Linked DNA regions of Homo sapiens: all the other regions are linked to region 1. The links come from fine-mapping of genetic effects on gene expression. A gene starts in region 1. Each other region holds a variant in brackets. All regions are shown on one strand. Distances are between the middles of the regions. Region 1 holds the start of USP53 (ubiquitin specific peptidase 53). Region 2 overlaps LOC102723967 (a long non-coding RNA gene). Region 3 holds the start of LOC102723967 (a long non-coding RNA gene).

Region 1 (7,514 bases):
CGTAAAATGATTTTTAACAATGTCAACAAGGATTTAGAAAAAAGCAGACGCTGTATTATATATTTTATACTCCATTTTGCTATCTTTAAGGAAATACCTTAAACTGATATATTAAACTTAACCATTGCTTTAATTCAGATTAATGAGATCAGATAAATTGTTCAATGAAATATCAATTTCTTAATTTTAAAATTTTAGTAGCTGTTCTTAGTAAATCATAAGCAATTTTGTTACGGAGCTATCCTAGTTTAAGAATATCTAGCATATGAAAAACCTAATTTATAAAATGAATGTTTGGGAATACTTCACATTATAAGTGGATTTTCACCACAGAATTGTTGTAAATATTCATTTACAAAACCTTTCTGGACTAGAAAGGAGAGAAGGAGAAAATGAGTTAAAATGTTAACAGCCAATGGATCAGAAAGAAAGATAAAGTGACTGAAGTAAGTGTCAGCAACAGAGACTTGATTTAGAAATTTTCAACCAAAGTATAAGTTTTCAGAAAAATAACTACTTAATGATTTTTTTTTTTTTTTAGACAGAGTCTCACTCGGTCGCCCAGGATGTAGAGCAACGGCACAATCTCAGCTAACTGCAACCTCCGCCTCTTGGGTTCAAGTGATTCTCCTGCCTCAGCCTCCTTAGTAGCTGGGACCACAGGTGTGCACCACCACGCCTGGCTAATTTTTGTATTTTTTAGTACAGATAGGGTTTCACCATGTTGGCCAGGGTGGTCTCAATCTCCTGGCCTCAAGTGATCCGCCTGCCTCAGCCTCCCAAAGTGCTAGGATTACAGGCGTGAGCCACAGCACCCAGCCAACATTGTCTAATTAACTTTTGACTTTCTAGTGTTTAGCACTATGCCTAGCATACAATAGGAGGTCAATAATGTTTATTCAATACTTCTAACTCAGAAAAGCGCAGCAGTAAAAAACTTCCAAAGGAAGGGTATTTCTTAAAACTTCTTTTTTGTAATATGTGTAAAATTGAAAACTAATGTTATCTTCAAATTAATTCAAAAATACCATGACACCTCAAATAACTGATTTTGTTCATAAAAATAGCTAAGATATTGGAATAAGGTTTATTTTGCAGAAAAAATTCTGATGAACTGCAGAGTATATGAAGCAACTCTTCTGAAGTCTCATGTAAAATCATAATTCTTTAGCCAGATGCAATGGTTTGTAGCCTTTTCTTGTATCATGGACATCTTTGGTGGCCTAATGAAGCCCCCTATGAATAATGTTTGTAAATGAACAAAATAAAATTCATAGCATAAAAAAAAGAAAAAGAAAAAAAAATACTAAGATCACAAAGAAAACCAATTATATTAAAACTCAATTCTAACCACAGACCACAGTTCTAATCATGGGCTTTTGGTTCAACAATTCCTGATAGAGGATATGAGTTAACCTGGAAGAGCACAGAATATTATTTGCCTAAATATTCTATATACTGTACATGGTATCTATGGTATTCTTATTATTAATTTTAAAAAATGTATAACCTGCAAAGATTACAATATTACATAAAGCTATTTAAAATTTAACCTTTGAGGATTTTTACTTGTAGTAGAGCAGGTTGCATCCGTTTCTTGTTCCTATCATGTGCAAATACCATAATGCAAAATTTTCTAAAATCATCAGTATAAAATTAACAATATAATAATACTATATTTGTAACATCATTAATTTCTACCTAGCTCTGCAAAGATAACATAAATCAGCATACTTCCCTCCTTAAAACAAGAGCTCATGAGCAGAGTAAGCGAAACTGGCAATCATTTTGGCCCTAGCACACCTAGCACACTGTGTTAAAAATGCTTCCAGATGCAATATATAAACTACCCAACTTTCTACAGGTTGTTTTTGAGTTCTACAAGAAATACCTTACAGTTAAAGCTGTCAAAAAGGATCTTCTAAGTATTTTAGTAACCAAACATCTTTGTAGGATAGTTTATTCCATCACTTTATAAAGATCAACTGTGTTTTCGGAAAGTTGTAGGGTAAAGCAATGTACCCCCTCCTACCCCAGTAAGTAAGAGAGTTCCAAACAATTCCAGGAGGGAAAATAATTCTGATTTTGGCTTTTAAAGCTACATATAACCTTAAATGAGATAAAATTTTCATTTTTAAACTTTGTCTTGCTAAAACAAACTTGTAAACCATATGGTACCAAAGTTGTATTTCTTGATACTGCACAGTTTAAAATAAACATCTAACATTAAACAATATAAAAGAACTTGAATCACAGCACATATGGCAGGTCTTAAGAGTATTGTGATTTTTCTTTTTTTTTTTTTTAAGGAAAAGAATACACTAGTTGGAAAAGTCTACCTTCCCATTAAAATATCTTTTTTAAAACTATCTTATGCATTGTTTAGTGAAAATATTAACGAATTGATTATTAGTATCAAATTCCATGAACTTACACAATCTACATACATTTTTAAAAATATTTGTTAAAATTCTTAGGAAAAAGGAAAGGCCAGTTCTTAGTCTCTTTTTTACACGTTAGGAAGAAATACACAAACCTCCCAGTTTCATTAATGAAAAAATCTTAATAAATCACTTTCATGGTTTATCACCAGTAAACACGAACCTGCACAAATTGTATCAAGGAGCTTATTTTAAAAGCCTTTGAGATACAAAACAAAAACCTTATTTCTCAGACTATAATTAACTCCTACTTACACCGAGTTTGTCTATTTGGAATTCTTATGACAACAGCAGGTAAATCATATATTACTTTTGCAGAGTAAGTTTTGTTCCCTTTGGTTTTTTTTTTTTTTTTTTAATTTATCTTTAACAGGACGAAGGGTCTTTGCTTAGACCATCATCACGGAACTGAAAAGAACAGAAAATAACAATTATCAATGTAACTAAAAGTTCATTTCCAACAGACATTTTGTGTTAGCACTTGCTACTCATTTTAAATAGTGAAAATCAGCAAGCCTTTTCTTTTAATAACTAAAAGTGAATCAGATCTTAATCACAAAAACCTTCCTAAGTGTACTGCGTTTTTTTGTTTGTTTGTTTGTTTTTTGGAGACGGAGTCTGGCTCTGTCGCCCCTGCTGGAATGCAGTGGCGCGATCTCGGCTCACTGCAACCTCCGGTTCAAGCAATTCTCCTGCCTCAGCCTCCCGAGTAGCTGGGACTACAGGTTAAGTTTACTATTAAACCTACCTCAAAAATAGCCTTAGATATTCTTTGCAAATATATATATTTATACATACATACATACACACACACACATATATATATATATATATATCTATTTCCAGATAAGGAAACTTTCGGAAAACTTTGCTGTCCAACTGGTAATTCCCTGCATACTTTGCATTGATAAAGAAAACCTTGTAGCAGGGTTACAAACCTCAAAACATCCTCAGATTGCAGGTTTTAGAAACCCTCCCTATTACACCTGTGCAAGTACTTCCTGTTCTCCAACACTGTTTAAAAATAGTTTGGTAAATGCCCCGTAAGCCGCCCTTTAGAAGCTAAACATTAACTTTATATACATCACCACTACCACTGAGAAACCACCACCCCAAGAATCTCACGAGTCCAGTCATCTCTCTTCTCCAAGGAGGGAGCATAACCATCCTGGACCCCTTTAAGTAAAAAACTGTGTGCTCAGGCGAGGCAATGTGGCTTGGACAGCCAGGGGCAGGAGCCAAGTAAGGGTATTACTCACAATCCCAGCAGGACTCCAGCTTGTCGCCGCCCTCAAACACGGCAGCAATAACATCCAGGACCCAACAAGTACAGCACCTCCTCCCGCCTCGCGAGCGCCTCCAGCCTGGCCAGAGGCATCTCCGCCAGACGCGGCGAGAAGGGGCGAAAGGGCTGCGTGACCTCTGGCGTCTGAACCGCCCAGCAAAGAGAGTGTGTGTGTGCCCAGAGGGCCGGGGCCATAGGAGGTCGCCGGGCTGCGAGGGGAGAGACGAGCTCTGGGGCTAGAATGAGAGTGTCCCGGTCAGGCCCGCGGGGGTCGCAGGTCTCTGGATCTCCAACCAGAGGGCTAGTTTCGGAGACTTACCTTGAGCTCTACCCTCCTTGCGCGAGGAGCGTGCGGTCCAGGTAGAGAAATACAGGCCTTCCACTCCCACAGAGCTACCTCCCGCTGGCCCAGCCCCGCTTCACGCCGACACCCGCCAGACACACTGACTGCTGCCACAGTACCGAGGCTCACCGGGAACTGGAGCACAGGCGGCTGGTCTCCGCCGCCCAGAGCCCGACCCTGTGAGCGGAGCATGCGCATACGCCCCAATACCCAGGGACCAGTCAGGCCAGTGACACCTGCGATCAACAGGTCCCTGGAGCCCCGCCCCTCTCCCCGCCTCGAGCCCGCCCCTCGGAGCGGGCTCCGCCTTCACGCTCACCGAGGTAACTCCGCCTCCGCTCGCGATTTCCCGGCTTTCTGGACCTGCGGAATTCTATTCCCGCGGGGATTTGATGGCGTGCGCGATACAGTTGGCTTCCTCGGAGGCGCGAGATCGCGCGAGACCAAGAGATAGAACATTTCTGCAAAAGCGGCAGCTTGGCGCTGGAGTTTGGTTGTTGGGGGAAAGGTGGTTGTAGGACGTGCTGTCTGGTGTGGTGAGAAAGAGGCTAGTTCTTCAGGAGGAGGCGATTATTCTGGTGCTCTTGGTAGTTCATTCGGTATTTTCTAAGCTCAAGAACGCGGATCCACCAAGGACTTCACTTAGGTTAGGTGTTACCTGAGAGAACAATCCGTAGTTTGGCATCAGAACCCCATGCGGACACGCAGTTTCCTTTAGATTTCCGTGAGTCGTTAGACGATCTATTTGCAGTTAAATGGCTTCCTGTGGCGTGAATGTGTATTCCCCAAGCAGTTGTTTCTTGCCTTTAATTAGATAGCTTTAATAAGTCTGTTGACCTGGTTAATGATTGTCAGAAAAGTCTGTCCGCCTCTTTGCCGTGCTTTCGAACAGGTTTTAAGTTAAAAGGTACTGCTGGGAATTGGGCTAAACTTTGATTTTGAATAAACCTTTCTTAGGAATAGTAGTAAAGGAAAAACCCATCGTCACTGATACCGAATATCTCTCAAGTAAATAAAGAAGGTTTTGGAACTCATTCCAAAGCTGGTGTAAGTTGAACATACTAATTGTAAAAATGGATTTCAGTAAACCCAGAGGCACTTCTAAAAGTTTATTTGAAGAAAGAGGGGGAAGAAATATTGGTCGTTGATACAGGAGACAAATAGGACCCGTTTGTAATGTCTGAGGCTGAATCATTAAGAATTTATTGAGCATTTACTATGTTCCCTTTACTGAACTAGGCACTGTCAGAAATAGGATGAAATAAAGCCGTGGTTTCTGCCCTCAAAATATTAAAAACTTTGGGAGGGGTGGGGGAAAAAAAGATCCTACTCTGCATTTTTAAAACAATAAGAGCACACCATTAACTCTTCCCTCCGTTTCTCTAATGTCATTTTCTCCTCATTCTGCAGCTACTTTTCTGGTGCACTTTAAATACTGTTTTTCCGCTGCGTGGTCTCTGTTCGCCAGCACTCCATTTTCTTTTGCTGTTTCTGTTTAATGTTAATCCATGTCTCCTTGAGCAGTCTCTTTCCCATCATGGATTTACCTACCACGTGTCCTGTGCACCAAGAACTCTCAGGTGTATATCTATACGTCGGACATTTTTAAGCAACATCCTTTGGATTTCACACAGTATCTTAAATATGTCCCAAATTGACATGGACATCTTTACTATAATCTGTTCCTGATGCCATGTCCCTCTTCACCCATCTGGAACCTACACCATTTCCATTCCCTGTTTCAGAAAATGACACGCAACTGCCCAAGTCAGAAATCTATGAGTACCCCTGTTACTTTTCCTTCATTTCCTCTTTTCTAATATCAAATTTTGACTCTTATTTCCTTAAGTATCTCTCAGGTCCACCCCTCCACTCTCACTGTCTTAGTCCTTCAAGTAATCACCATCTCTTATGACTCATCTTCCTTGTACTATTGCAATATTCACAAGATATCCTCTAGTTATTTCCCACACCAGTCCAACCTCCATTCTATTAATAATTTTTCTAACGTGAAAATACGATCATTATACTTCTCTGCTAAGAATTTTTCATTACCCACCGGCAGGGCCTTTCATGATCACACTGTTAAACTCATCGCCATTCTTCCTCCAGTTCCTCCACATTAATCTTTCTAAAGTCCTTGCTTTCTATGTTCTTGGTTCTCTCAAGATCCTTTGGTTCTCTCTCGAATGCTTATCTCCATGGATCTTTTCATAACTTTCTGAGACAAAATTGTCATCCCTTTTGGGACTTATTTTTATAACAATTATGTTGTACTATATTTATTTCTCTGCAAATGTACCTGACAGAGTAACCCCCACCTCCACCCTTGAGAAATAATTTGAACTGTGGATAATAATGGCTTATACTACCTCCCTTCCTTATTTAGCAATTACAGAAGAATACCCTTCAGTTCACCCTGCTCAAGAATTTGACTAAACCCTGACTATACACTTTTAAAATTATATAATTTCATACTTTCTACCAGTTTTTAGCATATCTATGTACCGATCCTTAAATGGTAGAGTTGTAATAGGACCCAATTTAAGCATCAAGAGGGCAGAGTCTGAAGCAAACATGAAAAAATGGAAAATTGACATTGCAGGACAGCTGTTGCTCCCAGAAAATTTGTAATTGGGAAAGTCACAACAAGGATTTAAAATATTTTAATTCTTACTATTTGTCCTTGAGGGACGTGTGTGGGTTTGATTCCCTAGTTTCTGATTGGCTGGACCCAAATTTGTGAAGACCAATCTCTGCACCTCACACAGGCAAAGAGATCATGAAAGGGAGCAGGCTTGGCATGCCAAAGAATACCCTAGATCATTCAGCTGAGGCTTAGCCAAAGTTCACACCACCAGCACATATACACACCTCTTAGTGTTATTCTGGATTGATTATAACTCAGACTTTGAGAAATGTGCTACCCTGTGGCTAGATGCACCCTGCCACTAATGTCTGGTAGGAATAGCAACATTGTGTCCTGCGGAGCTGTAACCCAGTAGTTCCAGGAGGTAATCAACAGCTTAACCATGACTGAGCTGGGTGGGGTAGAGTGAAATATAGCATAGGGAAGTAGTAGATCAATGACTGACTCAGGGTTAGATACTAGACAGAATCCTTTTTTTCCTAAATGCATCCATAAGGACTGACAAGTGAATTTCCTTACTACCTAAGCTCTCTGTTTTTTCATGTTTCCAAGGCATAGCACAGTGCCTAGCACAGATGCTTAACAAGCAGTGTTTATTGGATGGAGTAAAAATTGGAAGTTTTGTTGATTTTTTTGAATAGAGTCATCTGTGTGGGCTAAAGTTGGAGAGGGCTTCTGTGGGAGATCAAATATGAACTTCAGCTTGGAAGGATTATAAGCAAGTGTATTTGAAGGCATTGAGGAAGATATGTAACTTAAAAGAGCAAAGTTTTAGAAACAGGATTGAACAAGGCC
Region 2 (7,514 bases), 98 kb after region 1:
TGGTCATAACATGTGTTCTGTATGATATCAGTTCTTTGAAAAATTTAAGACACAGCCCATTTTTGCAAGTGTTTTTTTGTGTGTGTTGGAAAATAATGTATATTTTCCAATTACTAAATGCAAGTGTCTGTATATGTATATCAACTAAATCAAAGTTGTTGATTTTATTGTTCAAATTATTTGCATCCTATTGGTTTTCCTTACCTACTTTATGCATTAATAGCTAAGAGATATGTATTAAAAATTTCCCACAGTGTTGGTGGATTTGTCAATTTCTCCATAGGTTTTAAAATTTATATGCAATTTATTTTGAGGCTATGATATTAAACAATGTAAATTTGCAAATGTGATCTCTTTTTATTATATTCTTTATTTTTATAGAGTTCTCTTATTAGTATTTTTTTCCTTTAAAGAATATTTTGACTGATATTAATTATGGTCATATTACTTTTTTTTTTTGGTTAAATTTGCCGGGTTCTCCTTCTGAAACTTTGATTAGATATTTTGGACTTTCTCACTCTATTCTTCTTGTGTCTTCAACTCTTTTAAAATATTTTGCATCTTTTTATCTCTATTGCTTTATTCTTTTTCTTCTTTTGCAGAAGAACATTCCATTTTATTAATTCTCTACTCCATTGTATCCAAGTTATTTAACCTTTACATTGAATTTTTACTTTTAATTATTATACTTTTTACTTCTAGGAGAACTTTGCCCTCAAATTCTGCCTGATTTCTTGCTGATTAGTCATATTTTTACCTCTTTCTTGTTTAAAAAATTTTTTTCCTTAAACACATAATTTTTCTAAAAAATTTATAATATATTCCCTATATTTGTACATTTCCAATATTCAAGTTTCTGTTGTTTATTATTTCTGTGACACTTGCATGCAATGGCTTAGTTCAAATGTATTTTGTGATTTTTTAAAATTGATTCTGAAGTTGTATTCGCAATAAAACACAATCCTTTGCACTTTTCTAATAAATACCAAGGTTGTGGATTCATTTCTCTAGGGAAAATCTGTGTTTCTTTTTGCCACATGTCTGCAGACATTACAGGTCTGGAACTAGTTTAAAATGAGTCCAGAAAGGAAAACTTTCAGCTTGTAATTTTCCTTACCATGTAAACAGTGCAAATTTTGATCCTAAATTCATGTCTGGACTTTCCAGTGGTACAGATTCTCAGGAGAGCCTTTTCTCCCACAGTCAAATCTTTGCCAGACACTTTTGCTTGCTGCCTTCCTGTGTGAGGGGTCATTTGTTTACTTATGTTGTTCTAGTGAACTCTTTTCCATGTGCTGACCTTCCTGCGCATGGCTTCTGTGCTGGTGGTCACTAATGAAACTCTCTGCTCTCTGAAAATGCAAAGTTCCCGGCAGCCTGGATGTGTGGGTACTCCCAGGGAACCCAGTTGCTGCAGTGCTCACTTATTTCCCTAAATTTAGATTCTTACTTAATTCCTGAGAGCCTCTTCCATTCATTTTAAAAGAGCTTTTAATATTTTATCTAACTTTTTTTCAATGACCTAAGACATGAATTTTTCTTTTATTTTTCCAACTTGCATTTAAATACAGTTGGAAAATAGTACAGATATTTGTAGGAGATACCATTTTTTTCAGTTTGTTACCAATGCTGAGTGCCTTAATGAATTGTGGATCTCTTGAAATGATTCCAACAATTGTCAGAATGGATGAACTTTCAATGGCAGATTGATTGGCATCACTGTTAAGAGGCACGTGAAAACCCAAAGCTAGCACTTCGACTAAGTGACGCTGTTAGCCTCTGGGGTGTCATGCCACTCTGTAGGGCTTGCTTTTTCTCATCTCGAATTGCATTAGTTTATCAATTATATCTTCCCAAGTAATATGTATTATAGATGTTCTAGGATGTATTAATCTTTTTGATCCCTAGGTGTTGTCTGGGACTACTTGAGCTCCTGCTAGTCACTTTTTTGAGTTTCTAGCAGTCTCATGTCATTACCCCAATATGCCATACTAATATCATTTTTCCACATGTACTCTTATAAAAAAGATTAAGAAGAATGGTCTAGCAGATCTTTTAACAGTCTTTCTGTCTCTAAAGCTGTTCATTCTAAAGATTCTATTAATGCACTTTTCTTCTCTGGGCACTTACTCATTGAATGAGCATATTGTATCCAAGAGAGAAGCGGATGGATTTTAGAGTTGCTTTGAACTGAAATCTTCAAAAGGAGTCACATATCTTTGTTAATGGGAAAAATCTTAAGAATTTGGTTCAAAATGACTTGGTTAGAACTACTGACGCCATTCTAGGAAAACAGTTGTGATGATTGGGACCAGCCAAGGCCCTTTATGGCTCCAAATTATATTCGCTCATAACTACTTCCATTGTGTTAGTTTACCTCCTCACTTGTTTTCCATGAGCGCAATATTCTAGAGGCAACTTAGAGGTCAACTTACGTGCCACATGTCCTTTCCTTTCTTTTTTTGTTTATATTTAACAGTGTGCTTTTGTCTTGCTTTATGTTTTCCATCCCTCTGTTTCCCTGCTAGTTTGAACAACGTGAAGAAGCAGAGCTTGATTTTACTTCCCCAGGATGCATACCTATAGAACATATCAAAAACAATGATTGGCTTTGCTAATACCTGAAAGTATGGAGCCCAACATGCTCTACTTCTGATTGTTACTAGCATGATTCTGAGTCAGGCTTTAAGGAGAATGCTTAATGCTCAACAACCCAGAGTTCAGTCTGGCTCTGAAGTAGCATTGCTTAGGCTGGGATGTTGTGTGCTGCTCAAAAAGCAGATTTCTGTCTCCACCTGAGTCCTACTGAATCTGAATCTCTATGAGCAAGAGGTCAGGGGATCTGCAGTTTTACAAAACTGTAGTTGTAACTGTAGGGACTATTTCTCTGGAAATGCAAGAAAGAGCAATTAATTTGTCTGGAAAATAGGGAAAGGGTTTGAAGAAGACATTACAGAAGAGTTTTTGTTTTTGTTTAGTTTGTCTTTGAAGGATGAATCAAATAATTGGCTGATGGGGAAGACCGGGACAGGATATTTCAGTCCGAAGGAGGGGCATGAGTAGAGGTGCAAGAGTGAGGCTCCGTGGCGTATTTTGAGAGCTGTAAGTGGTCTAATGTGACTAGGTTGATGCCTGAAACAGGATGAGGGTGGAGATAGGAATCACAGAAGGCGGGTCTGAAAAGCAGATTAGGACTGAATTGGAAAAACTCTTGAGTGGTGAGGAATTGCATTTTATTTCATAGGCAATAAAAGCCATCAAAGATTCATGATTAAAATGTAGGAAGATTTTCATTTTATAATATAACTGTGGGCCAGGCGCGGTGGCTCACTCCTGTAATCCCAGCACTTTGGGAGGCCGAGGCGGGCGGATCACGAGGTCGGGAGATCGAGACCATCCTGGCTAACACGATGAAATCCCGTCTCTACTAAAAATACAAAAAATTAGCCTGGCATGGTGGCAGGCGCCTGTAGTCCCAGCTACTCGGGAGGCTGAGGCAGGAGAATGGCGTGAAGCCGGGAGACCGAGCTTGCAGTGAGCGGAGATCATGCCACTGCACTCCTGCCTGGGCGACAGAGCGAGACTCCATCTCGAAAAATAATAATAATAATAATAATAATAATATAACTGTGACAGCAATTCAGGGAATGAATTCAAGGGAAATGAAACTAGAGGCAATGGGACCACCTGAAGATTATTAGAATAGCATGGAAGAATGATTTTAACATGGTAGCTGGGGAAATGGAGGAAAAGGGGATAGATTTGGGATCATTCATTGACTCAACAAATATTTGTTACTGTTTCATACATACTGAGCCCTATGCTAGCTACTAGAAAATAAGAAAAACAAATCATGAACTTCCTAAGATGAATACAATTATGTAGTGTGTGTGTGTGTACGCATTCATACGTATGAGTACAAGAAATATTTTTTACATAATGGTGTTCTCTTTGTGGAAGAAATAAATAATTTTGCTTTTCTTTATTAGACATTATTACTTTTTAAAAGTGTCTTTAAATAAATAGAATATGTTTTTAAATTTTTATAATTAAAAAATTTATATGATTTTTCCTCCAGGACCCTAGCTAGAAGACAGATTAATAGTTCTTGATTTAACCACTCTGTTACGTAGCTGTTCAATAATTTATTACATGTTCAAGGTCAAACTGATTATTTCACTCTTTTCTAAACTTTCCCTTATTCTTCATCTTTTATTTGAATGTTTCATAGCTACCCCTCCAACCACATCTAAGCAGTCACCAAGCCTTATTGATTTTTTTTAGCTCTTTATCTCTTTCATGAGGTTCATACTCATGTATACATCGGCATGAACTCTTAATCTAGATTACCTGGGCTCAAATCCCAGCTTTCACATTTGCTGAGTGCATCCCCACGAGCAAATTATTAAACATCTATGATTCTCAGTTTTCTCATCTGTATAATAGAATTAATATCAGTTCTTGACCCATAGGGTTGTTGTGAGGATTAAATGAGATAGTTTATGAAGGACACTAAAAGTAATACCCAGAGAGTAATTAGTGTTAGTTATTATTTGGATTATTTAGGAAAAAGAAAGGATTTTAGTCTTAAAAGATAAAAAATGTAACTTCATGAAACCCTTAAGAAGAAAAAAAAATGTCTTTGTTGCTTAGTTACCATAGAGAAGGTAACTTTTTACTGTGTTTTGATACAGGGATAAAAATGGTGCAAAACAATTAGAGTTTTCAATA[A/G]GAAGCATAACTAATATCCCAGTCATGTCTTCAGAATTTAGCTGACAGTTGTTGAAACACAGGTTGATAAGATAAAGAGCAAACCTAAGATGTTTCTTAAGACAGGGCTCTATTGTGTCCATGAGGACCATGAGGCTATTTTGCTCTTTTCCAGGCATAATAAATTATTTTGGATCTCTGGACTAGGAACTATGAGGACACATTCTCATTTAATGTCTTTAACCACTGCTTCCATTTTCTTATGACTAAGCATTGTGAAATCAAAAAGTTAACCACCTACAGGAAGTAGAAGCCTGGAATATGGAGTTTGGCTACATCCTCTCACTTGCTAGTGAGTCATATTGTTTATATCCTTTTTCTTTCTTGAGAACAATTGCAAAAAAAAAAGGTAGTTAGGATTTCCAGGTTTTTGTGATCTTTTCTTTTTGGATAGAATATATAAGTGGATTTAAGAGAAACAGGTGACTACATCCCCCCCACTGTCCCCACTGAGAGAGTAAATGTATCACATGGTCTGATATGTAAATCTAACTCCTCTGGTGATAAAGATGCCAGCTGATTCACATATCTTTTCAGATTCTTATTATTCTTAGAAAAACTAATTTTTCAGTATTTACTGTACAACAGTCCTTGTTCCAGGTACCTTACAGATTTTAATGTATTTAATATGCACAACAGTCCGATTAGTCCTAACAGGAGGTACTAGTATTATATACCCTTTTATAGATTAAGAAACTGAGAAGTAGACTAAGAGGTTTGCCCTAGTAAGCAGCAGTTTGACTCAAAAGTCCATGAGCTTAACCTGCTTTAGTGTATGCTGGTTACTTTAAAAGAATTGATAAAATAGTATATTGTGATAATTAAGCATATGTATGTGTTTTAAAATAGCTTGAAAAAAATATGAATAAAATATAGTAAGTGCCTCATTACATGTCTTTAGTAAAGAGTGTACAAAAACATTATACTTTTTAAAAGCACTTTATATATGTTATCTCATTTGATACTCATGAAAACCTTACAAGTAAAGCAAGGAAAAATCCTTTTGTCCCCATTTTAAAATGAGAAAATTAGATTCAACAAGATTAAATTACTAGTTTAAGTTTGCAGAGTAAAGTCGGGATAAAAATCTAGATCTGTCCAGTGTTCTTTCCATAAGACCATCTTCCTACTTCTATAAATAGTAACTCTACAGTGCCTTCACAGGGTAGAGGAGGCAAGAAACGAAATGTGACATTTTTAAAAAAGAGTTTTTACTGAATCATGGAAAAGTGCAAACTAAGGTGGACACTTACTATTCGTATTGTATATGATCCCAAACCTGACTTTTGAGAGAGGAGTTGTTGGATCATTTGATTTTATTTTTAGGTGGGAACTAAAAGATCCAGTCTTACCTGTTACTGTTGTTGTTGTTAATTTTCTTGAATAAATTTAAATGTAATTCAGAGAAGAATAGAAAATTGTGTTTGATTTTATTAGGGGCCTTTCCAGAAACTGACCCCTAGTTGTTTGTATCTGTTATTATTCAATGAGACTAGTTTTAATTTTCATAATACTATAACTGCTTGTGATAATATCATAAACTAGGACAATTTATCCCTTCTGCTTTGTTTTTTCCAAATTCACAATATCTTTTAGAAGTTCATCACTTTGCTCTGCTACACATGGTGTACTAATCAAATTCTAGATTTACTCTATTCCAGAACCAGGCTTTCCAAGTTGCTATTTAGGTTCAGTGGGCCACGTTCCCTCTAGGCATGGTGCTTTTCCATAGGTTACTCTGAATGAGAGGACAATAGATATGTTCGAGGTTGTTTTAGAAATCTGAAAAATAAGTATCGGAGAAAATGCATAAATGAGATATACAGAAAGGCAAACAAGTGAAGGTGGGGACTGGAGAGTAGATACAAAACTAGAACTATTTTGCTGATTTTCTCTTTCTGAAGAAAGTCAAATCATTACACTCTCACAGGGCTTGAAAACATGGCTCTGGCTGGCAACCAGGGGTAGACACACTGTGAAAACATTTGCTGCTCTTTATTCTTGAGTTGAATTTTGCCTACAGTGAAGCAGACCACAAAATGAAGGGAAGGTTGGTTCATGAAATTACATAAACTTGGTCTATTTATTTTTTACCTTAATTATCTTGGAGCTATTCCAAGCATAATGAGAACCTCAATGGTCTTATAGAAAATAAAGTTTGGGCCTTGAGTTTGGGACCACATTCATTCATGTGGTAAGAGGTGGGCACTGGAGCATAAAGGTGACAGTGGATTTTCTGGTTGGTGTTATGGTCCCATGTACACAATCACCCTGTAAAATCCTTCACTTTGTAAAGTGAATGGGCCAATCCTCTTTTTCACATGTGCTTCTCAGCATGCTGCCTTTTGTAAATTTTTTGGTTATTCTAATGGCTTTCTTTGATATTTACTATATCTCCTATACAAAAATTGTGGTTGTTAAGGAGGGGGAGAGAAGAGGACTTTTAGCTGAGTGTGATGGGAAACTCAATCTTCCTAATCCGTATCCTCCCATTAGTAGTCCTATGTATGTCTTCCTTAAAACCAAGGAAATTCTCCATTTTCCCATATTTTATTTAATTTTCTCTTTCTTCTCTGTGTTTTTATAGCTCTTAATTCATACTTCTGATGTGGAATTTGGTATCTAATATATGTTTTATGTCTCTACTGCTTGATAATCAGTACTGTATTATATTCATCTTTTTCTTTTTGTCTAATGCCTAACAAAATCCCTCCTTGTATACAGTAGATATCCAATCAGTGTAA
Region 3 (7,514 bases), 120 kb after region 1:
GCCACTGCTCTAGGTCCATGGACTTTCTTCCTGCAGTTATCCTCTCTTTTTCTCCATTGCTGTTGTTTTTTCCTTCCTTTCTTCCTTCCTTCCTTCTTTTTTTTCTTTCTTTTCTTTTCTTTCTTTCTCTTTCTTTCTTTCTTTCTTTCTTTCTTTCTTTCTTTCTTTCCTCTCTCTCTCTTTCTTTCTTTCTTTTCTTTCTTTCTTCCTGATGGAGTCTCGCTGTGTAGCCCTGGCTGCAACCTCCGCCTACTGGGTAAGTGATTCTCCTGTCTCAAACCCCCGAGTAGCTGAGACTACAGGCGCCCACCACCATGCCGGGCTAATTTGTGTATTTTTAGTAGTAGAGACAGGGATTTCACCATGTTAGCCAGGCTGGTCTTGAACTCCTGACCTCAGGTGATCCGCCTGCCTCGTCCTCCCAAAGTGTTAGGATTACAGGCATGAACCACTGCACCCAGCCCTGTTTTCTACTGGAGTTTTTCCATCATCATAGAAACATGCTATGCTTTTTTTCTCACATCAAACAAAAGCAAAATACCTTGCAAATAGAGACAAGCACAATAAAACACCTTCTGTGGTCCTTTTCTTTGCTCCCTTTTAACATAAAAATTTGTCTACACTTGCTTTCTTCAGTTTCTCTGTACTGCTCCATGGAAACTGTTTATTGTCATGGTCACTAAGTTGCTTAAGCAAGAATCTTTGAAGTCATCCTGGACTTCCTTCTTTCCTTTGCACTCCACAAACTATGGCTTACAGGACAAATTGGCCTGTCATGTGTTTCAGTAAATAAAGTTTTATTGGAACACAGTCATGGCCACATGTTTGTCTTTCTGTGACAACTTTTGCATTACAATGGCAGAGTTCAGACGTCCTAATGGGGACTGCATGGCCCTCAAAGCCTAAAATACTTACTATTTGGCTTGTTATAGAAAAAGTTGGCCAGCCCCTACACTAAAATATAAATCTTACAAAGGAAAGTGCTTTGTTTTGTTCCCTGCTATATCTCCAGTGCCTAGAAGAATACCTGGCACTTAGCAAAGCTTAACAAATACTTGCGGCAGAAAGGAAAAAAGAAAGAATGAATAAGTAGTCTACGTCACCATCTTGTTCTTTACTCTCTCTTATTCAATCTTTGTCGGTTCTCATTGTCCTTTCTCCATTTTCCATAAACTCTCTCCTCGGATTTGTTTCTTCCATTAAGCTTTTTCTTCATGCTCATCAAATTTCCAACAGGAGGAAAAGTCCTAAAAATTGCTAAACAAATTTTGGAAATACGAAGCTTAAGTTAGAGAAATTTTTCCTTTGGCAATAGTATTAAAAATGTGTTCATCAATGGGAACACATGGACATAGGGAGGGGAACATCACACACAGGGGCCTGTCGGGGGAGGGGGCTAGGGGAGGGATAGCATTAGGAGAAATACCTAATGTAGATGATGGGTTGATGGGTGCAGCAAACCACCATGGCGCGTGTATACCTGTGTAACAGACCTGCACGTTCTGCACATGTATCCCAGAACTTAAAGCATGATTTTTAAAGAAGTGTTCATTTTTTCTTTGCTAGTGTCTGCATTGTTGAGTTCATTTTGGAGAGAAGACTGTCAAGAGAGAAATGATATTTCTTTTAATAGGTACTCTTGGCAATTTTTGCTAATAATTTTAACATTTCTTTTACCACATGAAGTTTGATTTCTATAGAGTAATCCCCTTTTATGTTGTGTTGATGGGCATTTTTTATTATTGATATATAATATGTTTACCCTGTCTTCAGTTTTTGCTCATGAGACTTTATCCAAAAACTAAACTCAACTGGCACATGCAGTTCTTTTGATTTCACAACTTACCCATGCCGGAGATACTTCCCATACTAACTTTGATCTCTTGCAGATGTGAAACAAAACCCTATACTAGATAAGTGAACTTTCAGTGTCCTTACTTAAAACAAAAGAAAATAAATAAAAATCTCATCTGGATCTGATTATTCCCAGGTGACTAAAAATTCTGTGAACCTGTGGAGACTGGAATGTACTGGCAAGAGAGAGCCTGGGTTATCTATTGGAATCTTGGATTCTGTTTTTAAAATAGGAGGTTAAAGCTCTAATGTGTCCAAAAATAATCTCAAGTGTGGGTTATTACTGCTCCCTTTGAGGGAAATTCAAAATTGCATAATATCAGATAAAAATAAAAACATGTGGCTCTGAATAAACAGTTATTCCTGTGCTATTAGTGGATGCATCAACACTGACCTGTCAGAGATGTCCTGATAAGGTCATTTTTGTGAGTGGTTTTAATACCAAGAGAACTTCATGGTTCCTAGGTCAGTGTGATTTGCTGCTGCCTTATCATGAGTAATGAAGAGGATATTTGATGCTTCTCTCTGTCTCTAGTTCTGACTTCATTTATTTCACTGAATTCTGAGGTTTACTCCTAGCAGGTTTCCAGTTCACTTTCAACCTTCAGCCTCACTGAGAGAGTGCTATATAGCTCCTTAGTGATAATGTACTTGGGTCTTATAATTAGTGATGATGGCAGAGAAGACATTCCTGATGAGGATATTTATTTCTAAATGTCTAAACAAATTTCTTAGTTTATTTCAAAATGCAATATATGTAAATAATAAAAGTTTTATCTTTACTAATTATGGCAGCCCTAAGTGCCATCGATGTATCTTAGTTTTCTAATTACCGAGCTGGCAAAGACAACTAAGATAGTGGAGAGTTAAAAGATTAATCCTACACTGCATAATGGAAAGGATTAATTTTCACAGTTGCTTTTGTTTCATTTTTGAGTTCCAATAAATTCTTTATTCTTATTTCACATAAATTTCTGTATACTACAAAAGATAAACTAAATTTACTAAATCTACTAACTTTATTAAATATATTCATTATTTTTTGGTGAAATGGAACCTGCATTTTACATGAGAGCATGCTATCTTTGAAAGAAATCAGTTCCTTGGAATCAGGAGATCCAGTCCTGAAAAATGGTTCTATTTTGCGATGTTAAACAAGTCATGTAACTTCTCTGAGACTTGGTTTCCTCATCACTAAGAGGACAGGGTTGAATTGGGGAATCTCTTTTCCCTTCCAGCATTAATTGTCTCAGACTCTATTTTAGGCCTCTGGAGTGTGTGTATGGAAACAAATTCACATGCTGAAATCCAGGTATAAATTTCTACTTCTCTTTTGTATTGCTTTCTTTCAACATTTCCTTCAAAAGAAGGATAAAATTACATCTATTTAGCTTGTTCATCTTTTGTTATCCCAAAGGCACACCCAACCATGGGGTCAGTGAGAAAATGTTCAAACATTTGTAAATAATCAATTTTCCTAATGTGAAGGCCAACTCAGCAGAGTCCTAATCAGGGAAAGGCAAAGAAAACAGTCCAGCCTTTAAGAGATCCAAATTTGGATTCTTTGTTAACTTTATCTTCTTTATTTCTCTTTCTTCTACAGCAGTGTTTACAACGTTATGATGTACAGCAATGTTACAGAAAAAAAGTGGAGAAAGATAATGCAACTACCTCATTGACATATACATCTCAGCATAATGATTTAAATACTGTGACTTTGTAGTAGGCTGATCACCAAGCAAGGTGATCCGGCAACTTGACCCAATATCAGACTGCACAAACTACAAAGGGTAACCTGGTGTATTGGGTGCTCAAACTAAGCCTATTGCTAAAACAACTTAAAATGCAAATTGAAAAAAAATGAATTGTGTCCATGAGCTAGAACATGCAGGCTATAAATTAAATGAAGGTGGGGACCTAGAGAGGTAAGCCAAATATCAGAATACATCTTCTGAGAGTATTTCCTGCCGCAGAATGAACTTGAACTTTAGTTTGTATATCTTTGCAGTTTTATGGGGATGGAAAACAAAGTCTAGGGCTTGCCTAGTATGGGAAGCTTAATAAGATACACACCCTCTATAAAGTAAAGACACTAGAGAACTATATCCTTAGTGATATACAAGGTGAACTACCAATAAACATGCATGTCCTGTGCACATTGCCCCTCTCTAGGTATTTCAAGGAAAACTGCCTGTATTAAACCTTAGTAATAAGCAGAGTTGAGAAAAAAATCCCCTGAGAATGTCTAACCATAAACTAACTTTCATATGTATTTGAAGACAGAATTACCATTACCTGTGGTGGCTTGAAAAATCTTAAGCCAAGAGTTAGTTTCAAGTGATCTTAGGCTGATAATGTAAAGACACGTGACAGAAACAAATGAAAATCCCTTCTATTGGAACCCATCTTTTCCCCAGGTCTTAAAGAGTTTTCATTAACAGAGCCCTCCCAAAATGAGCAGCTCATTGCATATATATATATATATATATATATATATAGATAGATAGATAGATAGATAGATAGATAGATACATACACACACACACACACACACATACATACACACACACATGCACACACACACAATACATGTATGGATTGAATAGTGGATTAGACACAGCTCACAAAAGAATATAGTAGCTCTGAAGATACTATCCAAAATGAAGTTCAATGAATAAAAGAAAAGAAAAGGAAAGAATAAAGGAGAGGTTAAGAGACTTGGAGACTAGTATGAAGAGTCACTAACATAAATCTAATCAGTGTTGCAGAAGACAGAGACAATAGACAGCAGCAGTTTCTAAAAAGATAATGGCTGA[T/G]CTAATAAAAGACACCAACCTACAAAATCAGGATGCTTGCAGAAGCCCAAACAGGATGAATAAATCTATAGAACAAATCTATACCTAACTATATCATTGTGAAACTGTAGAATACCAAGATAAAAAGAAAATATGAGAAGCAGCTCGTGTACTGAATAATCAGGTGGTAAGCATTTTGAGGCTGTAATAATGGGAGTTATGAGAAAGGGGTAAGAGAAAAAAGAGATTTAATAGGTTTCATATTTACCAACATCCTACTATGTACCAGGAGGCCTTGATATGTACCAGTTAATTCTTTGACAATCCTATGATATGGATGTAAGTATTATAGGTAAGAAACTGAAACTAAAAGACTAATTTTTCACGATCATAAAGCTAGCAGTGGTGAAATTGGGTTTCACATCCGTGTCTATTTGCCACCAGAGCTTGTGCTTTTGTTTTGTTTTGTTTGTTCGTTTTATGTAGAAGGAATAAGAATAATAAGCAAGCAAATGAAATAAAGAAAGAAATTCATTGCAGCATCTTTTTTTTTTTTTTTTTTTTTTTTTGAGACGGAGTCTCGCTCTGTCGCCCAGGCTGGAGTGCAGTGGCGGGATCTCGGCTCACTGCAAGCTCCGCCTCCCGGGTTCACGCCATTCTCCTGCCTCAGCCTCCCAAGTAGCTGGGACGACAGGCGCCCGCCACCACGCCCGGCTAATTTTTTTGTATTTTTAGTAGAGACGGGGTTTCACCGTTTTAGCCGGGATGGTCTCGATCTCCTGACCTCGTGATCCGCCCGCCTCGGCCTCCCAAAGTGCTGGGGTTACAGGCGTGAGCCACCGCGCCCGGCCTCATTGCAGCATCTTTTATAAGGCCCTCGCAGTCACTGGAAAGGAGAGAATTCTGAAGTTAACCATAGCCTGGATAAACTTAACAAAAGCACAGAGGATCCTTAGTATGACAGATTTAGCATTGTAGGTTTGTGACATCTGAGGTTAGCCGCAAAGGCAATGACATATATTAGTTTATAGTGAGGATAGTTAATAGTAAAGCGTATGCTTTTCCTTCATCTGTTAATTCAACAAATGTATACTAAAATTCCAGTTGGGTTAAGAACTACATGCCTCCTTTCATAGACAGTCTACTAGGGGAAATGGATTAGCAAATAAGAAATTACAAGATGTTGAATGTTAGGTAGAAGCAAGTAGGGGTACTGTGGAAAACATGTAGAAAGCAGACAGTTTTGTTCGGGGTGGGAGGTGGGAAGGCACGTTCAGAGAAGGCTGGAAGCCTGAAGGACAGTGGTGAAAATTAAATGCTCTTGGCACAGCTTTGTGTTGCAAGGCTGCTTTGAAGAGATAAGATGGAAGAAAATGGAACATGTTACCCAGCATCTTTATTTCAACCAGGGCATAGCTTGCTCGCCACTAGTGTTCAGGTAACATTTGGTGGGAAGAGGACTGGCCTCACTGGAGACTAATTACACGAAATGCCAAGAGTGTCTTAGTGAAGGATGGATCCTAAGGGAACAGGTAGACAAGGTTTTCCCAGTTTTAAAGCTTTGAGGATGATGGGCTGGTGGGTTTTTTGAATATGGGGAAGCATCTGTTACTTGTCTACTTGAAATTTTTTTTGGTGTTTGTAACCCCCACTGCCTTCTAAGGAGGCTGGCCTTTGGGAACAGGAGGAGAGGAGCAATGAAGCAGGGCACCCTTGAAGGGAAAGAGGGAGACCACTGGTAGTAACGTGGCAGGAAAGAGGAGTCTGGAGAAGAGAAATGGTGAAACGTCCAACAGGAATTTTCAAGTGGTCATCTGTGGGATATGGGTTGTTAACTGTCTTGTCTTTTGTTTCCATAAAATCTTATGTAAATCGACATTTCTTGGTAATATCTTTTTGTGAAGTGGATTAATTATTTTGAGGGAAAAGCAGATGTTGGGAAGCTCAAAGAGAAGGATGAGAGGACAGGAAAAATCTGGATCACCCTCGACCACGACCTGCTGGGTCTCCAGTAGCCCCCAAGGATCTCTTAAGTCACCAAGGATATTTTTACAAATCTGGGGAGAAGATGGTAAAGTTAAAATGGCCCTTGAGTTAAAACTGAAAAGGGTTTTTTCTCTAAAATCTCAATAGGACATCAGGATAGAACTGCTTAACCTAGATGCCAAATTAAGACACACAATGGGGAGAGAATCATTCTTCCCTCTTTGGCCAAACGCTAGGCATGCATTGTGGAGCAAACTCACCATTGTCCCTTGCATAGCAAGCCGTAGCACAAGTTCTGGCAGAAGAGTTGTGCCTCTAACCTGAGTATGTCAGGACATCTACTTTGGGCATTTGGATTTGCCATTTTTAGCTTGGTTTTAAAAAACAAGAAAATATCAGTACAGAGAGGTTAAGAAAGTTGCTCAGGGTCACTAAGGAAGGAAGTGACACAACTGAGATTTGAACCCAGGCTGCCTAACTGCAGAGTCAGGCTCTTCACCACCATCTTAGATTGTGACTAAGAGGGTAGCTTCTAGAATCAGACACCTGGGCTGATCTCAGGCTCCACCATTACAGTTAATAGACTGCAAGCTCCACTGAAGTATTCTACTGGGCAAGGCGAGGAGAATTTCTGCTTCATTCATCACCGTACACTCAGCAGCTGTTACCTGGTAGGTATTCAGTGAACATTTGTAGAATAAGTAAAATCAGATGTATCACCACATACATAGGATGTCCTCACTAATCTGGACTAGAATTCTCAACTCTGTACATGTCAGTAGAATGTACAAGCCAGAGCAGGGGTATTTAAAATTGTTTTGCTTTAGAAGATGAAACCGAATGATCACTAATAGACTCACGGAGATTAAAGAATCATGAC

The links. PIP is the estimated chance that this variant, and not a neighbour inherited with it, causes the effect. A credible set is the group of variants that fine-mapping cannot tell apart.
Region 2: its variant is the best candidate, but not a certain one, in a credible set for the expression of USP53 in tibial artery (GTEx, PIP 0.89).
Region 3: its variant is the best candidate, but not a certain one, in a credible set for the expression of USP53 in unexposed skin (GTEx, PIP 0.64).

The regions. Positions count from the first base shown.
Region 1 is chr4:119,209,405-119,216,918 of GRCh38, reverse strand. USP53 (ubiquitin specific peptidase 53) reads right to left here and starts at 4,206. Exons shown (of 19, transcript NM_001371395.1): 1 at 4,046-4,206; 2 at 2,697-2,849. LOC101929762 (a long non-coding RNA gene) reads left to right here and starts at 4,275. Exons shown (of 3, transcript NR_125931.1): 1 at 4,275-4,392. RefSeq lists enhancers at 3,812-3,861, 3,567-4,140, 4,472-4,591, 4,714-5,288, 6,444-7,514 and a silencer at 4,212-4,341.
Region 2 is chr4:119,110,922-119,118,435 of GRCh38, reverse strand. All of the region lies in intron 2 of LOC102723967 (a long non-coding RNA gene), which reads right to left. LOC105377395 (a long non-coding RNA gene) reads left to right here. Exons shown (of 5, transcript XR_007058251.1): 5 at 1-323. Among named protein-coding and RNA genes, the nearest start is that of MYOZ2, 21 kb to the left of the region's middle. The variant A/G (reference allele first, on the strand shown) is at 4,732.
Region 3 is chr4:119,094,083-119,101,596 of GRCh38, reverse strand. It overlaps LOC102723967 (a long non-coding RNA gene), which reads right to left and starts at 1,465. Exons shown (of 3, transcript XR_001741422.1): 1 at 1,427-1,465; 2 at 1,104-1,257. The variant T/G (reference allele first, on the strand shown) is at 4,670.